Homo sapiens: one gene and its partner. The protein of the gene in region 1 purifies or fractionates together with the protein of each later gene. This does not show direct contact. Each region holds a gene or a part of one and is shown on either strand. Other genes may lie near its edges.

Region 1 (11,165 bases):
AAAGAATTGCAGGTAGTAAACAGAGAAGAAATGTCACAATTTTTTAAAATTACTCTTTTTGTAATTAATTTATTTTAGTATTATTATTATTTTTGAGATGCAGTCTTGCTCTGTTGCCTAGGCTGGGGTACAGTGGTGTGATCTCAGCTCACTGCAACCTCTGCTTCCTGGGTTCAAGTGATTCTTTTGCCTCAGCCTCCCGAGTAGCTGAGATTACAGGTGTGTGCCACCACACCCAGCTAATTTTTGTATTTTTAGTAGAGACGGGGGTTTCACCATGTTGGCCAGGCTGGTCTCCAACTCCTGACCTCAGGTTATCTGCCTGCCTCAGCCTCCCAAAGTGCTGGCATTACAGGTGTGAGCCACCCTGCCTGGCCTTTGTAATTTAAAAATTACAATTTGGGCTGGGTATGGTGGCTCACGCCTGTAATCCCAGCACTTTGGGATGCCGAGGCGGGTGGGTCAGGAGTTTGAGACAGGCCTGGCCAACATGGTGAAACCCTGTCTCTACTAAAAATACAAAAATTAGCTGGGCGTGGTGGTGGGAGCCTGTAATCTCAGCTACTCAGGACACTGAGGTGGGAGAATCGTTTGACCCTGGGAGACAGAGGTTGCAGTGAGCTGAGATTGCGCCATTGCGCTCCAGCCTGGGCAACAGGGCGAGACTCCATCTCAAAAAAAAAAAAAAAAAAAAAAATTACTATTTGTAAGCCCCCAGTGTAATAAATGATACAGGTAAAGACCATTGGTGGATGCTAAACACAGTGGGTGAAAAGTTGTCGGGGTATTCTTAGGGTCTCAAAGTATCACTGTACTGATTATATGCTAATTCTAAAGAGGAAAATATACCTTTACAATGGAGAGATCTGGCTATTACCACCTTATCCAAACAGTAAAATTAAGCATCACCAGTGATGGGACAGCCTGATATCATTTGCCTCATAATGTAATGTACTGTGAAGTTCACACTACTTATCTTCTACTTAATATATATGTATCTCCTATGTAATATTTTCCTAAAAATATTTATTTTGAATCTAATCAAGTAAACATATAAATGTAAAACTTGGGACATTCTACAAAACTACCCCAAACTCTTTTTATAAAAGGCCAATGCCATGAAAAAACAAAGAAACAAACAAGTAGGATATTATTCTAGATAAAATTACAAGGGACATTAACCACATGAACCCTGACTAGATCCTGGATGATAAAAGTAAAACAAGAAATATAAAACACTTTTGGAGACAATTTGGGAAATTTAAATACAGGCTGTCTGTTACATATTATTGAATTACTACTGATAGTCTTAGGTGCAATAATGATTTATGGTTATAAAAGAAGAATGTCATTCTTAGGAGATATATGCCGAGATATTTAGGAGTGAAATCTCAAGATATCCACAATTTACTTTCAAATGGTTCAGCAAATATGGAGGAAATATGTCAAGATGTTACAACTGGTAAATATAGATGAAGTATATGGGTATTCATTGTACTCTTACCTATAGATTTGGAATTTTTTAAATAAAAGCTTTGGGGGGAAAATCTCAGTTCAAATGTTGTATCTTCTGTGGAGGCTTTTTCTTTTTCCTTTTTTTTTTTTTTTTTTTTTTACTTTTCTAGTGGAATTAGTTTTTCTGTCTTCAGTATTCCTGCAGGACTCTTTATATTTCTACTTTAGCACTTAACGAATTTGTTAACTGCTAATTCCCAGGTCTGACCTTTTTCCTATACTGTGTGAAACTGGCCTCATCTTCATTCCCAGAATTTAGCTCTTTATCTGGCACGTACTAGGTATTCAATGTTTGTTGTATGAATGAGATAAACTGACATGCTACAGTAACTAAAACTGAATCTTGGTATTGTCTATATCACATGTGTCTCAAATTTAATTAAATCTATCAAGCAGGAAGCCTATTAAATGGTCCTTTGTGATCTGTACCATTATAATGAGTACCAACATTCAGATGGATTTAAAATCAATTTAAAACAAAGCATAACATGTTTCCCTCAAGCAGGCTGACCCTTAAGTCATCACGGGCATATTTTCATTTAAATTCTTCACACTTTCGACTCAAGAAAATTAGAGAAGCATACCTGCTCTATATCCTTGGAAGTGGAGGTCTGGTTTTCTCCCATGATTCCAGGTTGCTCATTTTCCCATGGTAATTTATTTTTTCCTTTTCCTGCACTTAATACCCTTCGGGTACAGATAGTTGGGCTGTAAGATCCATAAATGTGCATGCTATCCCTCACGTGGTCACCACAGTGACAGTGTGCACTCTGAGTTCTGTTACCAGCCAAAAGCCAGTCCGTATCTGCTCCATGTGCCAAATGGTTTGACCTACCCCCGGCAGAAGATGGCATCAGTACTGCATATTCCACAAATCCCTGCTCTGTGAGCCTTGGTAAGGTTTTCCTAGCCAATCTGGCCTGCACAGCATTCATCACTCCATCTCCATTATCTTGCAGTTCAACTGTATCCACAGCTTTAAAAAGGATGCTGGTTTTACCTGAGCCCATTGATGATGCCAATACGGCAAAAGCTTCTAAAGCTGCTTGGCGTACCCTGCGTTTGCTATCTACAAGAGCTGGGGCAAGATCAAAGGACAGTTTGGGCAAGTCAAAATCCTCACTAGGATAGGTCAGCAGGGAGCAGATGCAAATGTTCACCACCTCCTCTCTCACTCTGGAATGCTTATGTTTGAGATGTTCCAGGAGTAAACAAAGCACCTGCTGAGGTCCTACTTCCTTCATTAGCTTGAGGAAGATTTTCATGTATTCTTGTTTGATCACCAACTTGTTGTCCGCCAGCACTTTGACAGAAGCTGCTATAACTGGTCCCAAGAACTGCTGTACCTGCTCTCCAAGGCGAATAACCAGTAAATGCAGGACTTCAAGTGTGCCATGCACCACTTTGAAGTTAGAATCGTCTAACAAATTATATAGCAAACTAATGAAGCCAACAAGACTAGAATGAGGAGTAGAACTAGGGTTAAATTTTCCCAGCACCTGCTTTAGTTCTTCGACGGCCTGGGTCCGGTTCTTATAGTCTTCCTGATCCAATAATCGTGAATGCAGCTCCTGAGGAATAATCCCAAATTTAAGATTGCTGTTGGAAAGAGTCACTGCACAGGGAAGGGGATCTTCAGGAAATCCAGAGGCTTCAAGTTCCAAATAATAAGGAACCTGACTTCCAAACTGGGACTCCAGGCGGCGATTGTAGTGTCTCCTCAGGGCAGAGGGCAGACGAGAAATGTAAGATTGAAACCTGTCTTGGCCAAGTCGCTCCCCAATTTGTTGAAGTGCGGAGAAAGCTGTCTCAGATTCTTCTTCTGTCTCCTGATCACCAAGCTTTCGGGCTAGGGATATTATCACCTCGGTGAGATCCAGACCAAGCAACAAGTCCTCAGTAGTAAGCAAGATGGGAAGCAGTAGTGCTGTGGAAGCTCTAAGTCGGGCATCGGTACTTTCCAGTCCTTGTTGTATAAGCGTTCTCAGCACCTCTCCAGGACTACGTTTCAGACATATATGAAGGATCTGCAGCGCATCTTTCCGCAGGGCTGGATTCTCTTCCCGTAACGAGACAACTAGTTGAGGCAAAAGTGCTAAGCTAAAGGCCTCTTCAAGCTGGCCTGCCTCCCCCTGACCCCGGAGAACGTCCGAGAGAAGTTGCAAGCAGAGCCGCTTCTCATCACTACCTCCTTCCACAAGCACTCGGCCCAGTGCCCGATACAAAGCTTCCTTGCGTCGGGGGAAGCCAAGTCGACCGCCCCGCCGCGGCAAAGCAGCTTGCAAAGCCTGGAAGGCCTCAGAAGGATCCCGGGCAGTGCGGAGGAGTTGAAGGAGCCGAGTGTCCTCTTCATCTCCCCCTGACAAACCGCCTCCAGACTCAGACCAGCTGCTTGAGACTGCCTCCGAGGGCATCAAGAGGGCCGAGGCCAGAGGCGAAGTTGTAGTGGGGCAGGAACCGTGGTCCCCCGCAGCTCCACGGAAGTAGTAGTTTTTCTCTCCTCTCATAATGCCCCCAACTCGACTATCATCGGTCTCTGGGGCGGAAGGACGACTGCGGCTCTGGAGCCGATAGGTAGAGAGGACTGGAAAGGGCGGCAGCAGAAGCAGCGCGGAGGGGGCAGCCGCCATGCAGGGTTGTCAGGTGGTGGTGGTTGGAAGAAACCATTGCCGTCTCCAAAGGGCTCGATGGAGCCCAGACTTCCAGATCCTCTCCAAGCCCCAAGCTGCAGAAGAGGCAAAAGAACAGCTTCAGCCTGCCGCCAGGCCGCCCCCAACTCCGGGAGGCAGCCTCTGGCAAAATGGCCCCCGTCTGAGCCCTAGACCCCACAGCTGCCACCGGGCGTAACCAAGGGCACCACGTGACCAAACCGATTGCTTCCATGGTGATGTACCCAGCGCGGACCTCTTGACCCGGAAATCCACTTGCCGTGATGAATGCTGGGTTATGTAGTCCACGTCAGGTGTTGAGACTAGGCCAAAGTCTCCTGGAAGAGGAAGTCAGAACGTTGTAAACGCAGCTACAGCGGAGAAGGGAGGAGGGGTGAAGCCATTTGACGGATGTGACGCTTTCCTTGCTCTGGGCGGAAGTTGCCCGCCCCACCCGTAAGAGTTAGGGTTTGACCGGAGCTAGTGAGGATCCAGCCCAGGCTCCAGTTGTCCGCGGTTCCTCCTCCTGTCGCTGCCCGTGTGATTACTGAGACTCAGGTATTTTCCTTTTGCTGTCCTCCAGCGGTGCAGGCTTTGGCAGTGTTTTGCCCGAATGCCACTGGTGCTAGAGTAAGAGGCAAAGGACTGAGCGGAGCAGGTGGAAAGAGAGGCGACATCTTCTTGTGCAGGGCTCGTCACCCTTGTAAACGCGTTACTCTCTACCACCCTGAGTAACTGCGATCCTTTCCTCTTGCCATCTGCTTATCAGGACAGAAGATCTGGACCACGGCCAAGCTCACAAATCGGGTATTTTTTTTCAATTCCTGGTCTTTGGGGCCTTTATTCGCCTCCCCCTTCTCCTTTTGTCGACTTCTCTTAACCCTCCGGCCGCAGAGGGTTAATTTTTTTTTGTTTTTGTTTGTTTGTTTTTGGCAACGTTTCCTTACCCTCATCACTTTGCGTTTTCTTTACAACGTACATAATATGGAAATAGGTCTGTTTTTTTCCCCCTGTAGCTAACCGCCTCTCCCTTAGACGTTATCAAAATCTTTCCTTCTAATGCAGTTCCTCTGTGGGACTCTCCCCTAACCTCCGCCCCCTCCGTCTGCCGCCCTAGCCTCCCTGCAGGATCCTCAAGCGTCTCTGCAGCCTTTCAGTCTCCTAGAGACAGAGATTGCGAAGACAATTTCACTTGCGGTGGAAGTTCTTGGCATCATGGTTCTAAGAGAATTCTGCCTTGTGGATTTAGGAATGATAGTAGACATTTATTTATTTTAGGCGAACTGAGAATTTTGTGTGCATTTTCTCCTCATAAGTGATACTTAAACGGACACAGTGGAAGAGCTGGAGTGTCTAGTGTGAGCCTGAATGCTTTGGAGTGTGGAAGAGATATTTTTTTTTTTTGAAGGAATAATACTATTACTTTTGAATGACTCGTGCGAAAAGTCTAAGTTATCATTTGAAGACCCAAATTTATGCACTTCAAATGCAAGTATTCCTACCCTGCTCTGTACCAGGTGGGATTTCTCTTAAATACTTTTTAAAGTCTTGGAATAAATGAGTCACATATGCCAAACAGCTTTATAAATAATGCTCCCAGCTGATGCAAGTGCAAAAATAATTTCTGGATTTTTGCCTTAAAGTACGATTTGAATATCAGTTTTGTTTTGTTTTGTTTTTGGGGGGGTGGGGGTGGGGAATAGACTATAATGTAAATGAGGCTGTGTAAATATACATCCTATGTTTTGGTTTAAATTCTAGGCTGTTACTTTGGTTTTAATGAGCCATTTTCGTGTTTAAATGAATCTGCCTAAATTAGGTTTAGCTAGCATGTTTCATTTTAGGGACAGGTTAAAGACAGGGAGGTGAAAAACAAGAAATGATTGTAGCAGTTGTCAATGAGAAAGTGTCTGGTTCTCACAGTTCCAACCTAAGAAGCTCAAATGTGTAGACTTCTAGTCATGTATTGCCCAGACTTGAGGAACCCAGTTCAAACTAACCTAGACAATGATGTACACATTACAGTGCCAGTTTATGTTGGATCAGAATTTTCAAGTTGAAAATCCAGTGCACTCTTTCTTGTATCCAAGAACTTGGGAAGCCAAGTTAATAACTAGAGGTTGTGTGGTAATCATGGAATCACAGAAAAGGAACTTCGAAAGTCTTAAATGAGAGACGTGGATACTTAAGCAGTTATCATGCCCTTTTCCTGGGAACAAAGCAAGATGAGTCTTCCTTTTGATTCTTGTTTTTTTAGATCCCTGTGGATCACTATACATTACAGATTGCAATTTATTTTTTATCTGTTACATTTTGTCTCTTTGATTGAAGACTTAGAAGAGGCATTAGTCTCCATAGTGGATATTTAGGAAATGGGACTTCATCAGCATCACGTCTTACTGATTATCTTTTAGAGTTATTTTGTGGAACATAAATCTCATTCATTGAGTGTGTATTCTTTTTATTACGAAGCAGATTTTTTTTAATCTTTGGAAATCTAGGAATTTCTCGTATATTGACTTAAAAAGCCTTTTGTATTTAATCATATATAGAGAGAGTACAAATTTGTAATCAATTTTTAGATAGTAGAATACACTATTAGGTGTTTTATTAATAGTACACCTCAGAAAGTTAAAAGGAAGTGGTTAAGGATACATTGAAAATTGCAAATTCAGCTAAAACAAGTTTAAAATTTCAATAATTTCAAGAATGTAGTTAAATTAGTGAATTATAGGAATGTGTGTGCTACATATGTTAATTTTTTTAGCTGAACTTAAGGGTAAACACAATTGCCCTAAAAACTTACTTTATTTCCAGAATCAGAGATAACACATTAGTTCCCTGGGCGAATCACTATGATTTTTCTGTGTTCTTACTCAAATTTTACAGACATCCAGGAATATTGAACGTCAGTGTGAATTCTGTAAACTATTAAGAATTTTGTGTAGTTTGAGAAGTTATTGTGAAGAAATGCTATGCAAATGAAAGTTGCTATTAATATTAACAAACAATCATAATAATACCATGTTTTGAGTATTTGCTATGTGCCATGCACCATGCTAGGTACTTAGTAAATATTAACTCATTTAATCCTCACAAGAATTTTTTGAGGTTACATCTTCTACATTTGGACTATGGAACATTTTATGGGTGTTTCCACAAAAGAGTAATTGGACAGAGGAAGAAAGTAAAACTCACATTTGCTTAGAGCTTGGAGAAGGTTTTGGTGGAGGTCACTGTTGAAACTTTAGGATAAAATTAGATTTTTTCCATTATTATTCATTTATTATATATCATTTGATTATATATTTTTTAATTTATTATTTTTTCTTTCAATCCTTGGTTGAAGATTATATATATTTTAATCTATCCTTTTTGGATTTCTATTCAAAATATTTTTAGTTTCTTGTTTGAGGTAACACTTTAATAAGTTAAGAAATTATGAGCTTATTTTATACAGGATTGAATCAGTTTTCTTGATGTATATGAGTGATATATTTTCATCTACTTAGGTTTATCTTCCAAAGCCATTATGTATTTCTGTCTTCAGTCAAAACTATAATTTTAAACAAAAATCCAACTTGTATTACATATTAATTACTATGTATAAGTTAACAGAATTTCACATCTGTTGCAGTTTTTCAGTGGACAGGGATTAATTATGTAACTTAGACGCCTGTCATAACATGGATTCAGAAATAACACAGAAGAAAGCAAGTTCAAAGTCATTACCACATCCAGTAAGAGCTCTTGACAGGCTTCTAATTTTACTTTTCTTTTGTTTGTCAATAAAAGTCAAATCTCAGATAAAAGGAAAATATCCTAACTTATTCCATAGGCTCACTGATAGAATTATATACCATTATTAGTTGAATTATCCTATGAGGAAAGTTGAACTGTAGGAAAGAAATTTAAGAAAAGAGCAGATGTGATAGAATATTCTCCTAATTTGATAAATCATTTCTTATTTTCTCTTTTTAAAGAAAACTGTCGGTTTGAATTTTTTTTTTAAGAGTAATCTTGATTTCTGTTCACCATTTATTTACTCTGGGTGTGATCTATATTTATATAGTGGCAGATAAGTGCCTCCCAACTGATTTCAGCACCACTGTTTTGTGGCTTAGGTGTCAATTAAGTAGATAGGTACAAAACTCGCAACTTGACCTTTATTAACTTGGTTTCAGAGCCTAAAGTTAAGTTACTGTAGACTATGGAAAGTTTTATTTTAATTTTAATTTCAAATGGATACTTTTTATTCGATATTGACTAATGCAGTTACCAAGATTCAGAATACTATTGTTTGTTTTATCATTAAAAAAAAAAAAAAAGAACAAAAACTATGGCAGAGATATGGAGGAACCTGATATACCAAATCTGCTTTTAGGCAAATACTGGAAGGCAATGATTGTTCCATGGATCCTTCTTTATTTCATTTTAAAGCCCTGTGTATTTTTGTATCTAATGTGTATTTATTTTATAAAGATTTTATATGAATGATCTATCCTCTGGATTTCCATTCTGCACATTTTTAATTTCTTGTTTGAGTTAAGATTTTAATAAGATTAAGAAATTCTGAGCTTATTTAATAAATGAGGCAGTGTAATAGAATATTTAAGAATTACATAGACAGAGTGCCAAGGTTTAAATCTTGCCTTGGACTTAATTTCTCTGTGCCTCACATTTCTTTATCTGTAAAATGGTGGTAATAATAACAGTGCCTATTATATTGTTGCTCTGAGGATGAAAGGAATTAATACATGTTAAAAGCTTAGACTGTTAACTGGTACATTATGACAGTCAAAGGTATTCTAGATGCTCTTTCATAGAATTATTTCATTTTATGAGAAGTGATAACAATTATAAATTGATTCAGTAAATATTTTAAGCAGCTCAACATTGTTTGGCAGTTAATTTTTTGTATGTAATGTGTAGAGAGCATTGTTCCAAGATTAAGAAAACATTCTAGTCCCAGTAATGTTTTTTACTAATTATGTGATTTTGCTAATTCATTTAAACTCCCTGAACTTAGGATTCTAAAACTGTCTTATTCAAAATTTTGTGCCTTATATTTTCTGTTTTTTAAGAAAAAAGTCTCTTACTGTGCAAAATTTCAAAAACATGTAAAAGCAGAACAATATGATGAACATCTATTTACCTATCACGCATCTTCAATAGTTATCAACTCATGACACCATCTATATCCCCTTCCACAACCTCATCCCCTATTATTTTGCAGCAAATCCTAACAACATATTATTTCATCTACAAATATTTCAATACAGCTGGTCATGGGGGCTCACACCTGTAATCGCAGCTCTTTGGGAGGCCAAGGCAGGAGGATTGCTTGAGGCCAAAAGTTCAAGACCAGCCTGGACAAATAGTGAGATCCCATCTCTACAAAAAATAAAAATAAAAAATATTAGCCAGGCATGGTAGCATGCGCCTGTAGTTCTAGCTACTTGGGAGGCTGAGGAGGGAGAATCCCTTGAGCCCAGGAATTCAAGGTTACAGTGAGCTATAATTGCACCATTGCACACCAATTTCAGCATATATCTGTAAAAGAAAAAAGCTCTTAAAAACACAACCACAATACCACTATTTAGCAACAAAAAATAGCAGTGATTAATTAATATATTAATAATCCAGTCAGTGTGTAAATTTCCAACTGTTTTCTAAATATGTGGGTGCACACACAAGTCTATGGTTCACAGGTTGTATTTGATTGATACGTCTTTTAAATTTATAGATTCATTCTCTTTATTTCTTGCAGTTTATTTGTTGAAGAATTTAGTTTATTTTACAAGATTTTTCACAGTCGGTATGTTTTTGCTAATTGCATCTTTCTGGTATTGTTTAACATGATTTTTCTATTTTCTATATTTTATGTAAATTAATAGTTGGAACTAGAGAATTGGCTGTAGTTTAATTTGCTTGACTTTGGTGTGTGTTGGGGTTGGGACGTGAGAATACTCATGGGTGTTATGTTTTTCCATCAGAAGGCCCAATTATCTAGCTATCTCTCTTTTTGTGATATAAACAGCCCTTCACAATCAATGCCCATTATTTATTAAGGATGCAAAATGATAATATTCCATTATTCCTTCTTTATTTATTAACAGGGATACTTTTAAAAAGAGAAATTTGGCCAGGTGTAGTGGCTCATGTCTGTAACCCCAGTACTTTGGGAGGCCAAGGTGGGAGGATCGCTTAAGACCAGGAGATTGAGACTAGTTTCGGCAAGGTAGCAAGACCCTATCTCTTAAAAAACAAAAACAAAAAAACTCATCTATTTGGAAACCCAGTAGTACAGTTAGTGTAGGAAAGGCATAATAAATGTTTGATTATTTCTCTTTGTTTACTAGGTTTCAAAAAATGAGTTGCTACATTAGCATCGTCCGGTGTTGACCATTAGGACTTTTTTTAAGTATCATTATTAACTCATGCATTTAAAATATCTGATATCGTTTAATCAATTGCAGTTATTATTATTGATGATCAGTTTGTCCTGTCTTTGACTAGTGAAAGCCTATTTAGTTTGGCCCCTGAATATTTTTTATATGACTCTTGTAGTATTTGATAGCTTTCTTGCTACCTAGGATGTATTTATTTATTTATTTTGAGGCAGGGCCTCACTCTGTCTCCCAGGCTGGAGTGCAGTTGTGCAATCACTGCACACTGCAGCCTCGACCTCCTGGGCACAAGCAATTCTCCTAGCTCAGCCCCCCAAGTAGCTGAGACTACAGGCATGTGCCACCACATCCAGCTAATTTTTTTATTTGTTTTTTTTCTTTGTAGAGACGGAATTTCACCGTGTTGCCCAGGCTGGTCTCAAACTCCTGGGCTCAAGCTATCCTCCCACCTTAGCCTCCCAAAGTGCTGGGATTATACTACCTAGGATTTAGATTCCAAATGTGTCTTGACATCTTCTGCCCCAGACATGGTATCAGCTATCTGCCCAAGGAGTTCTGTTCTCTTTGAGGGAAATGGTATTTAGAGAGTACA
Region 2 (11,810 bases), on another chromosome or scaffold:
GGTAAGTGGCTTGGACATTAGGCTGACAGTAACAGGAGGCTCAGAGAGAGTATGGAGGAGGGGACTGACACCACTGATGTCCTTTTTTTTTTTTTTTTTTTTTCCTGAGACAGAGTTTCCCTCTGTTGCCCAGGCTAGAGTGCAGTGACATGATCATAGCTCACTGCAGCCTCAAACTCCTGGACTCAAGCAGTCCTCCCACCTCAGCCTCCTGAGTAGCTGGGCCTACAGAGTGTGCCACTATGCCCCAAGTCTTTTGTTTTCTGGTTTTTTCATTTGTTTGGTTTTTGGTGAGGTTTTTTTTTGTTTGTTTGTTTTTGAGACAGAGTCTCGCTGTTGTTGCTTGGGCTGGAGTAGAATGGCACAATCTTGGCTCACTGCAACCTCCACCTCCGGGGTTCCAGCAATTCTCCTGCTTCAGCCTCCCGAGTAGCTGGGATTACAGGCACCCGCCACCATGCCTAGCTAATTTTTGTATTTTTAGTAGAGACGGGGTTTTACCACGTTGGCCAGGCTGGTCTCGAACTCCTGACCTCAGGTGATCCACCTGCCTCGGCCTCCCAAAGTGCTGGGATTACAGGCATGAGCCACCACGCCCAGCCTTGGTTTTTTCAGAGACAGGATTTCACCATTGCTCAGGCTGGTCTTGAACTCCTGGGCTCAATCCTCCCTCCTCTGCCTCCCAAAGTGCTGGGATTACAGGGGTGAGCCACCACGCCCGGCTGCTGATGTCCATTTTTTAATATGCATGTTGCCTGCTCTACAGAGAAGACTGGAGGGGAGTGGGAAGAGGGAGATGAGTACTGCTCAGGCCACGCCAGCCATGAGCATCATTTGGATAAGCAAGAGGGGCCATGAGCGCTGTGAGTCCAGATGGAAAAGGCAGAAGAGGCACAATCTGCAGACCAGTTAGTTGTGGGACATGAGGGGAAGAAGGGAAGGAAGAACCCTGGGATCTGAGCAGCTGGCCGAAGAGTATGTGATTTGCTGAGTCAACGAAAACCTGGGGAAGGACTGTTTTGAGGTCAAACCAAGAGCTCTGTTTTGGCTATAAGTCTGAGCTGCCTGTTAGACATTCCAGTGGAGGTTCCGAAATGGTCAGTGGGTATTGTAAGAACCAAAGAAAGAGGAGAGAGGAGAGAAACACGAAGGGTGGCTCGACAGTCAACAGGTTTATTTCAAACCTGGGAGGGACTTCCGACCGAGTTAGGTCAGAGCCACACTCTCCTACAGACTAAGAGTTTTTAAGGATTCAGGGTGGGAGAGTTTATCAAAGGCTTGAACTGTTTCTGTGTCTCTCTGTTGTGCTTATCTGGGAGGGAGAGTTGTGTGTCTGTTCCTATACAACTTTCTGCAGCTGCAGGCATACCCCCCAAGTCTGCTTTTAGCTTCCCTTAGTGCACCTGAAGGGAACAGAATGTCCTTATTAAGGCCCACTGTTATACTGAGGCCCATTGTAAGAGGGTGAAGTTTGGCCGTTACCCAGGAAACAAACCTGTTGACTGTCAAGTCACCCTTCGTGTTTCTCTCCTCTTTCTTTAATTCTTACAGATATATGAGCCTGGAGTTTAAGGGAGAAGCAGGAACGGCATTCAGAGGGATAGCAGAGAATATGGGTGCTGAGCAAAGACACAGATTTAGTGATTAGAAGTGAAACAGGCTGGGTGCAGTGGCTCACACCTGTAATCTTGGCACTTTGGGACACCAAGGCAGGCAGATCACTTGAGCTCATGAGTTCGAGACCAGCCTGGGCAACGTGGTGAAACCTCATCTCTACAGAAATACAAAAATTAGCTGGGTGTGGTGGTGTGTGCCTGTAATCCCAGCTACTGGGGAGGATGAGACAGGAGGATCACTTGAACCAGGAAGGTCAAGGCTGTAGTGAGCCGGGATCACGCCATGGCACTCCAGCCTAGGTGACAAAGTAAGACCCTGTCTCAAAAAAAAAAAAAAAAAAAAAGTGAAACAAGAAACAAGATCAGCTGGGCACGGTGGCTCACGCCTGTAATCCCAGCACTTTGGGAGGCCAAGGCAGGCAGATCGCCTGATGCTGGGAGTTCAAGACCAGCCTGACCAGCATGGTAAAACCCCATCTCTACTAAAAATACAAAAATTAGCCGGGTGTGGTGGCAGGCACCTGTAATCCCAGCTACTCTGGAAGCTGAGGCAGGAGAATCGCTTGAACCCAGGAAGTGGAGGTTGCAATGAGCCGAGATCGTGCCATTGCACTCCATCCTGGGCAACAGAGTGAGACTCTGTCAAAAAAAAAAAAAAAAGAAAGAAAGAAAAAAGGTCATCGGCTGCAAGTAAGAAGCATGGTGACAGTTCGAAGAGAAGGGAGAGTGGGAACGGAAGGGAGGGTGGGAACCAAAGCGACTACAGCAACATGGCAGGGTTGCTGGTATTATAGTCCATTTAAGATCTCTGCACTTGAATCTAAAATGGAATCAGTCTGCACAGTTTTGCAGCTCTTCTCCAGGCACTTTCAGCTATCTGAGTTAGGTTAACCAATGTGAGAGGTTCTTCTAGAAGAGAGAGGAAAGGGAAAACAGTACAACCACGATGGGACACTGGAACTAATCAGGTTAAGAATGGGGGAGGGGAACACACATAAGGCGGCTGCAGAGCAGTGAGGAAGCAGTGGGGTCTGAGACCTGCTGAAGGAGGCACATTCCAGTGAGTGTGAAAGATGGAAAGGAGTGGGCAGAGAGTGGGACAGATGCCTGAAGGCAAGACTTTGAAGGTGACTAGTACTAAAAAGCTCCCGACCACGGGAGTGGGCAGATGAGGAGGATGGAGGAAAGAGACGCCTGCAAGTAAGGAGGATGAAGAAACTGGAGGGGCCAGGATGTGGAAACCCCCAAAAGTGAAGTAAAAGAGATGAAGGGATAGGCAGCCAGCCGGGTGCTGGAGGCTCCAAGGGAACTGGAGAGACTTGCCCTGGGAAGTGGCTACCTCAGGGAGGGCTGGCAAGGGGTATGGCATCTGCCATGTGCTTCAAAGGAGCTGGGGTTTGTGAAGGAGTGGGTAGTGATCTGGAAGCAGTAATGAGGAGCAGGGAGGACACCTCCCCATGCACCACACCAGCCCTGCCAGATGCAAAAGGGGAGAGAAGAAAGGCAGCTGCTCCTGGGGGACACCCACCTCTCCAGCCTTTTTCTGGACCATGCCTCCAATCCATCCACCTCCCCCTACCTGATCCCTCTCCTTGCTCCCTTCCACCAATCCCACACTGGACCCTGCCAACAGCGAACTCCTGGCCATTCCCCCATGCAACAAGCTCTTCCAGGATCCTAAGCCTGTGGTTGATGTATGCTCTGCCCCCCCAGGCAAACATGACTCATGATTCTAAGCCAAGCCAGATTTAATCTCTTTTCAAGAAGTCTTCCATGAAAAACCCCTCCCTTCTTTCCCTACCAAGGCTTTTTTTTTTTTTTCTTTTTCTGAGATGGAGTTTAGCTCTGTTGCCCAGGCTGGAGTGCAGTGGCGGGATCTCGGCTCACTGCAACCTCCACCTCCTGGGTTCAAGTGATTCTCCCACCTCAGCCTCCCAAGTAGCTGGGGTTATAGGCATGCGCCATGACGCCCAGCTAATTTTGTTGTTTTGAGATGGAGTTTCACTTTTGCCGCCCAGGCTGGAGTGCAAAGGTGCAATCTGGCTCACTGCAACCTCTGCCTCCCAGGTTCAAGTGATTCTCCTGCCTCAGCCTCCCAAGTATATGGGATTACAGGCGTCCGCCACCAACGCCCAGCTAATTTTTGTATTTTTAGTAGAGACAGGGTTTCACCAGGTTGGCCAGGCTGGTCTTGAACTCCTGACCTCAAGCGATTCACCCACCCAAAGTGCAGGGATTACAGGCATGAGCCACTGCACCTGGCACTTCTTATAACCCTGTTCACAAAGACAGGGAGCTGTATTTCAACTTCATATCCCCAGAACCTAACAGAGTGTCTAGTAAGCAAGAAAGGTACTCAAGGCATATAATGAATAAATGAAGCCGGAGCTGAGGGGATGTCATTTTAAAGGCCCTGGAACGGGAAAAGTGAGTTTCTGAGAATTTGAAACCTTGAGGCCAACCTCAAGGCCTTTGCGCATATTACTCTCTCCGCCTAGAACACTCTTCCCTCTCTTCACCTGGTTAACCACTGTGCCTAATAAACATCACCTCCTTAGAGTAGACCTCCCTAAGCCGTTTAAATAGTATCTGCTGTGATCAACTGTCATTGAATGTGAGTGCTGCTGGGTATCCTATTACTCAACATTCTTAGAAATTACAGAATTGGCCAGGCACAGTGGCTCACACCTGTAATCCCAACACTTTGGGAGGCTGAGGCAGGCGGATCACCTGAGGTCAGGAGTTCGAGACCAGCCTGATCAACATGGTGGAACCCCATCTCTACTAAAAATACAAAAATTAGCCGGGCGTGGTGGCGTCTGCACCTGTAATCCCAGCTACCAGGGAGGCTGAGGCAAGAGAATCGCTTGAACCCAGGAGGTGGAGGTTGCAGTGAGCCGAGATCATGCCACTCCACTCCAGCCTGAGCGACAGGGAAAGACTCCGTCTCAAAAAAAGGAAAAGAAAAAGAAATTACAGAATTTTCTCTAAACTTTTATATCATAATAGGTATCATTTATTGAAGGTATATGGTATGCCAGGCAATGTGCAAAATGTTTTACATTTAACCTTCATAGTAAACCTGACAGGTGAATATAGTTTATATTTTCCCATTCCAGATGAGGCAATTTGAGGCCCAGGAAGTCTGACACACTCCCAACAGCCACAGTAAGTGACTAAGCGGCTGAAAAGAACCACTACACAGTATTTCCCAAAGTCTGGACCACCTAAATCAGAATCAGCTGGCACGCTTGTGCAAATGAAAATTCCTGCCTCCACCCTGGTCTTACTGAACACCGTGGCAGGCACCATGCCCAGAAATCTGCCTTTTAAACAAGCTCCCTGAGTGACTTTTACACACTCTCAAGTTTGAGAACCAGTGCTCTCCTTTATGCGGAAACTAAGAAAAACTTTTCCAGTTACATTTGGGGATTGCAGCGGCAGCTTTTGAATTCCTATATAAGAAAGATTTAGGGCCCACAAACGGGTGGGATTATGGGATTTGTATGGAAGCCGAATCTGCATAGCACGCATCCTGTTTTTCCTAAGATTAGGTGAAGTCTGGACTTCAACTGGGTGCCTCAGGAACGCGGCTAGCAGATGGAGATTATCAGGGGGATCTAAATCCCGGATAACCCGCTCGCGCCGCCACCACCAGCTGGATGGCTTGAGGGACCCCCTCCAAGTATGGCCCACTGCAGCAAAGATCAGGGACTACTTGCGGGAAGCAGCTGGGCCTGTCCTTTCTTGGGATGTCCAGGCGGCCGCCTCGGCCCTTGCCGAAGAAAGATCCCTGGACCGCAGGCGAGAAGTGGTAGCATCCGGCGGCGGCGGAGCGGGCGCGTCGGGTTTTTCCTCGGAACAAGAGGTCCGCAGAGCCTCGGCCCTCCAAACGCACCGCTGCTCCTCCCAGCACCAGGACGGCGGGCGGAGGGTGGCCCGGCTGCATCCGGGGACGCGCTTACCTGCTGCTCGGCCGCGGACACTCGCGCTATCCCAGCCCGGCCGCCACCTCCGCAGCCGTCACCCGGGCAACCGCCGCCGCCACCCCGGCGTCACGTGGGGGCGGCGCAGCCAATCGCGCGGGGCGCCGCCGACGCGGAGCAGCCTGGGAGGGAAGGTGGGCGACCCCGAAACTTCCTGGCGGCGGAAGTGAGGGTCCACAGCCCAGCAGTGGTGAAGGTTCACGCGCTGGATGACCGCGTCTTCTGTGGTCCTCTCCACCACTCCACTTTCGTTCGTTCATTCATTCGTTCATTTCCCTTTCGTTGCGCCAGTCGCTGCGCCGGCTCTCGGGATGAGCCGGAGCAGGCTCAACCCCTTGTCTCAAGGAGCTCGTGGTCGCGTAGAGAACACAAACTAGGACAGTGTGGTGTCCGTGGGGAAAGAGTCAGGCATGGTTATTCCCATCTTAAAGGAGGGACCTGGGGCCACCTTAGAACCAAAAGTGACGCCCAAGATGTGCATTAAAGCTCCGGGGACCAGGGTCCCGCCCCACTGCAGCGGTTTCCAAGGATTTCAGAGAAACTTTTTGTTTTCCATGTCAAATGTGGGCTATTAAAAATAAATCAGGAGCACACGTCTTCCCTCTCTTTGCACCTGATGCTTTTGAACTGAAGTTCATCAGCACTGAATGAGCACTTGCTAGTCACCCAACTTTGTGCTGGAGGGTGAAGAGATGGCCATGGATAGAAAATCCCTCCCCTCCAGGCGTTGAGATTCCGTGGGAGTCTCTCGTTGCCACCTCAGTGTTTCCACCTCCATGCTTCCAAGAAGGAGGAGGCTACCAGGGCCAGAGACAGGGAATGGGGCACGGAGAAGGTAGGTCAGCTCGCCTTTGAAGAAGCCCTAAGATGGGCTGTGGCCACCACTTCCCCAGTCCCCAACCCTGCCAGTGGATTGTCTTCCAAAAGAAAAAAAGCTGTATTTAGTAGAAGAGAGCCCTATCTTCTGTCCAGGTAATATGGATTGAAAATAAATCTTCAATCCATGGCCATAATATTTATCGTCAACACAACTGTATGCCGGGAGATGCCAGACAAAATATAGAACACACAGTTAAATGTAAATTTTAGATAATGTTTTAGTGTAAGTAAATCCCAAAAACTGCTTCATTTTATTGTGCATGTAGGATGTTATATTGTTCTGTATTTTTGTTTGCAAAACGTGCAGCCTATATGTGTGCCCAGCATTGTGCTAAGTGAATCATATAGATTGTTTTCTTTAGTTCTCACACCAGGCCCGGCACGGTGGCTCACACCTGTAATCCCAGCACTTGGGAGGCCAAGGCAGATGGATCACCTAAGGTCACAAGTTTCAGACCAGCCTGGCCAACATGGTGAAACCTGTCTCTACTAAAAATACAAAAATTAGCTGGGCGTATTGGCATGTGCCTGTAGTCCCAGCCACTCGGGAAGCTGAGGCAGGAGAATCCTTGAACCCGGAAGATGGAGGTTTCAGTGAGCCGAGATCACGCCACTGTACTCCAGCCTGGGCAACAGAGTGAGACTCTGTCTCAAAAAAAAAAAAGTTTTTAATTCTCACACCACATCTATGAGATGAATAATATTTTCAGCATTTTACTGATTGACAATGTTGTAATTAACCTGAGCTGTGTGCTCTTAGAAAACAGCCACAGTTAAGAAATCTCACCCACGCACCCCCAAACCTTTTGTTTTCTAAAATCCTCCACACTTTTGTGTTCTGGGAAGTAGCTTATCAGAAAGAACTACCCTTCCACATATGACTTCATCAGACCCACAGTCCTGTCTTTCTCATGCCTCCCATATGATGCACGGATGACCCCCTTGTTTACCTGTGACAAGGACAAATGCAGACCTTTTCCCTTCTGCCTGAGTCTGCCGGCAAGGCCAAGGACAGACTTTTCAGCTTCTCATTCTTTGTCTCATGGTTGATTAGCTGAGATTAGAGCTGTCTGTTTTGTCTTTGGCAAGATGAACAACATGAGGCATACGGGATTAAGAAACTCCTCAAAGTTTACACCACTGAGGAGACCAGGACTAAACCCAGGTCTCCGTGTCTCTGGACCCTGGGCTCTGAGCTGCCGTGAACACCCCACCTGCTTTGCTTTCCCTCCTGAGTGCATTTGCCTGACTGCCGGGATTATGGTCATTGTGGTGGCTATTGTCTTTGTCTGTCTACCTCCCCTCTCCCTTCTGGTAACATACCCCATCCCTCACCACAGGATGGGCAGATGGTCCAAACTGGACCAATCTTACCCCATCCCTCTGGCCTCAGTGATGGGTCCAGGATGGGCATGTGAGCCAAGCAAAGCCAATGATAGTCCTTCCCTGGGATTTTGCTGTTGAAGTGTGGTCAGGTTATTGTAAAGTGAGACTCCAGGGCAGCCTACAGCATTCACTACATGGGAAAGACTGAGAAGATGAAGCCATTACCTAGAGAAATGCAAAGAAAGTGCTGGGGACATCAAATCCCTGGTCCCAGGATCTGAGTTCCCTGGAGCTGCACTTATTCTTACAGCTCCTCCAGCATCCTTCCAATCAACTGTCTTTTAAATTTTTTATTTTTTTGAGACAGGGTCTTACTCTGTCACCCAGGCTGGAGTGCAGTGGCGCAATCTCAGCTTGCTGCAACCTCTGCCTCCTGGGCTCAAACAATCCTCCCACCTCAGCCTCCCTCATAGCTGAGATTACAGGCATGTGCCACCACGCTCAGCTAATTTTTGTACTTTTTATAGAGACGGAGTTTTGCCATGTTGCCCAGGCTGGTCTCAAACTCCTGAGCTCAAGCCATCTGCCTGCCTCAGCCTCCCAAAGTGCTGGGATTATACATATTACTGCACCCGACTTCAACCATCTTTTTAATTTCAACTAGTTTGGACCTGCATGGTGGCTCATGCCTGTAATCCCAGCACTTTGGGAGGCCAAGGTGGGAGAATTGCTTGAGGCCAGGAGTTTCAGACCAGCCTACACAACATAGCAACATCCATCTGTACAAAAAAAAAAAATCCGTCTGTACAAAAAAAAAATTATTTTAATTAATAAACTGGTTCAAGTTGGGTTTCTGTCACTTGCAACCAAAAGAGACCAGACTAACATAGACACAATTTCTATATGTCTGTTTGAGATAGGAAAAACCAAACTGACTGCTTTTACTCTTCTCACACTCAACACATTTTTTTTTTTTTGAGACAGAGTCTAACTCTGTTGCCCAGGCTAGAGTGAAGTGGCACAGTCATAGCTTGCTGCAGCCTCAGCTTCCAGGCTCAAGTGATCCTCCTGCCTCAGCCTCCCAAGTAGCTGCTGGGACCACAAGCACGCACCACTATGCTCGGCTTTTTCTTTTTTTTTTTTTCCTTAGAGGTGGGGTCCCACTTTGTTGCCCAGGCTGGTCTCGAACGCCTAGGCTCAAGCGATCCTCCCGCTTTGGCCTCCCAAAGTGCTGGGATTATAGGTGTGAGCCACCATGCCCGTCCTCAACACAATGCTTCTGACAGCAGATGTGTGGAGGTTTTTCCTTACACACTAAGCAACTATCCAGCAGACACTAACTGGTTGTCCTACAATTCAATTCTGATACTAGCTAATGACTGGAGTTAGAATCAGATCCCATAGGTCAAAGGCTCAGTCCCACAAGACTGTCCCCCACCTCAGATGCCAGTCAAAAGTAGCAGTTGTCATCTGTACTTCTAACCAAATGGCTATAAATGAGGGTTCCATTAATTTACTAGGATGGCTCATAGAAGGAAACACTCACATGTACTGGCTCATTATAAAGAATGTGACAAAGGTTACAGATAAACAGCCAGATGAGATGGTACCCAGGGCAAAGGATGGGGGCGCAGACCTTCCATGCCCACTCCAGGTACCTCCATGGTTCAGCAGTCTAGAAGCTCTTCAAACGCTGTGGTTGAGGGATTTTTACAGAGGCTTCGTAATGCAGGCACAATCGATTGTTATTATTATTATTATTATTTTTGAGACGGAGTTTCACTCTTTGTTGCCCAGGCTGGAGTGCAATGGTGCAATCTCAGCTCACTGCAACCTCCGCCTCCGGGGTTCAAACGATTCTCCTGCCTCAGCCTCCCAAGTAGCTGGGATTACAGGCATGCGCCACCACGCCCAGCTGATTTTGTATTTTTAGTAGAGACAGGGTTTCTCCATGTTGGTCAGGCTGGTCTCGAACTTCCGATCTCAGGTGATCTGCCTGCCTTGGCCTCCCAAAGTGCTGGGATTACAGGCGTGAGCCACTGCGCCTGGTCGGCACAATCAATTATCAACTCAATCTCTGGCTTTTCTCCCCATCCCAGAAGATGGGGATGGGGCTGAAAGTTCCAAGCTTCTAACCTTGGCTTGGTTTTTCTGGTGACCAGCCCACCAAGAGTCATCTCATTAGAATACTAGATGTTCCCATCACCCATGAAATTCCAAGGGATTAGGACCCTTTATCAGGAGCAAGGGACAAAGACCAAATAGAACAAAAAGATCCACCTAGTGCCCCATCACTCAGGAAATGACAAGAATTTTAGGAGCTCTGTGCCAGGAGCCAGGGGCAGAGATCAATTATATATTTTTCCTTTCTTTTTCTTTCTTTCTTTTTTTTTTTTTTTTTGTTAGACAGAGTTTTGCTGTTGTCACCCAGGCTGGAGTGCAGTGGTGCAATCTCAGCTCACTGCAACCTCTGCTTCTTGGGTTCAAATGATTCTCCTGCCTCAGCCTCCCGAGTAGCTGTGATTACAGGTGCGTGCCCCCCACGCCCACCTAGTTTTTGTATTTTTAGTAGAGACAGGGTTTCACCATGTTGGCCAGGCTGGTCTCGAACTCCTGACCTCAGGTGATCTGCCCGCCTCAGCCTCTCAAAGTGCTAGGATTACAGGTGTGAGCCACCGTACCCGGCCTAATTATATATTTTTCTTATTTCACAATGTCATATCAACTAAAAGTGGCCTCAGCAATGGGGGTGGTGGTTCATTTTCTTATAATAAATACAGAAGTAGCTGGCTTCTTACCAGCAGCTCAAGTTGTCAAGGATCTGGGTTGGTTCTGAATTGTATCATCCCCGTGACTAGGTGTGATATGGAACAAATAGATACGGTTTGATACAGTTTAAAAATAATTAAACTACTATAATTCCTTAGTTATAATTTAAGACTTTCTTTGAATCCTGAACACTTGTGTAAGCATAATGCCAGTATTTAGGTGGAAAATCTCTGACTCAATCTCAGTCTGTTTAACTTATTCGATGTGTTCTCGTGGGAGTACAAAGGATACTTTTGTCACAAGAGGCAAAACTGCTTAGTTCTGAAGCTTCCTCCAGGCAGTCTCTAGGTTGGCTCTGCTGTGTATATTCCATGAGTTCATAGCAATACACTGAACCAGCTGCCTCAGCTTCCCCACTCTTAGGACCTGCCAAAGCATCCCATTTGCCCCAAATGTTCTTGTTTGACCACTCCAGTTTTCCCAAAATGGGATACATACTGCCAATGGGCCCAAGATGACTTTCTAAATTGTTTAATTATGAAAATTTCAAACATATGCAAAACCAGAGGATGGTTTAGTGAATCGCCATACACCCATCTCTCAGATTCTAGAATTATAATGACACTGGTGCTGGGAAAAACTTAACCTCAAATTAAATCCTTGGAATATGCTGAACACTTTAGCCAATATCTTCAGCCTTGCATAGGACATCGAAGGGACTGGTGGAGCTCTAGATTCTGGTGGGGGACACAGCTGATTCTTCTGCAGCCTAGAGCCCTCTGTGGGCCCTAGCCCTGAGTACTTTAGGGGCAGGAGGGTCACACTCCTCTGTGGCCTGCTACACACAGTTCATGAATGAAGTCATCTTTGCAGGCAAAGCAGGCATCTTTCTGGCTGCTGTCTTTGTTGGAAGGCAAAGAGCTGAGACCACAAGCAAAGAGGGAGAGTTGGTAAATGTTACTTTCCTGAGTTGCATAAAAGGGTGAAGCCACCTAAATTAAGCACACTGAGCCTGACCCACCCAGGCAGACCAGCGGCCAGCTAGACTAAACGCAGTTGCCTCATCCGGGAGCTCCTGCAGGGGGAGTTCAGACCAAGAGCATGTTTCTGGGCAGGCCCAGCGCCTGGATCTAATCAGTGGGATGGAGGAGGAACATACTGAAATGCCCGGCGTAAATCAAGAGATGAATTACAAGATGCTGCTTAAGCGAACATTTCCTTCCAGGAAAGTTGG

Evidence for each region.
Region 2: the proteins of TOGARAM1 (region 1) and ARMC9 purify together in Homo sapiens (co-immunoprecipitation; 2 studies listed by IntAct). This does not show direct contact.

The regions. Positions count from the first base shown.
Region 1 is NC_000014.9:44,955,402-44,966,566, reverse strand, and holds the start of TOGARAM1 (TOG array regulator of axonemal microtubules protein 1), read right to left. Parts: upstream 4,378-11,165; 5' UTR 4,146-4,377; coding exon 2,100-4,145; intron 1-2,099. Other genes in the region: KLHL28 (kelch-like protein 28), read left to right, coding at 5,639-5,680. UniProt on the Homo sapiens protein: Involved in ciliogenesis. It is required for appropriate acetylation and polyglutamylation of ciliary microtubules, and regulation of cilium length.
Region 2 is NC_000002.12:231,192,470-231,204,279, reverse strand, and holds the start of ARMC9 (lisH domain-containing protein ARMC9), read right to left. Parts: upstream 5,650-11,810; 5' UTR 5,582-5,649; exon of another isoform or gene 5,335-5,581; intron 1-5,334. UniProt on the Homo sapiens protein: Involved in ciliogenesis. It is required for appropriate acetylation and polyglutamylation of ciliary microtubules, and regulation of cilium length. Acts as a positive regulator of hedgehog (Hh)signaling.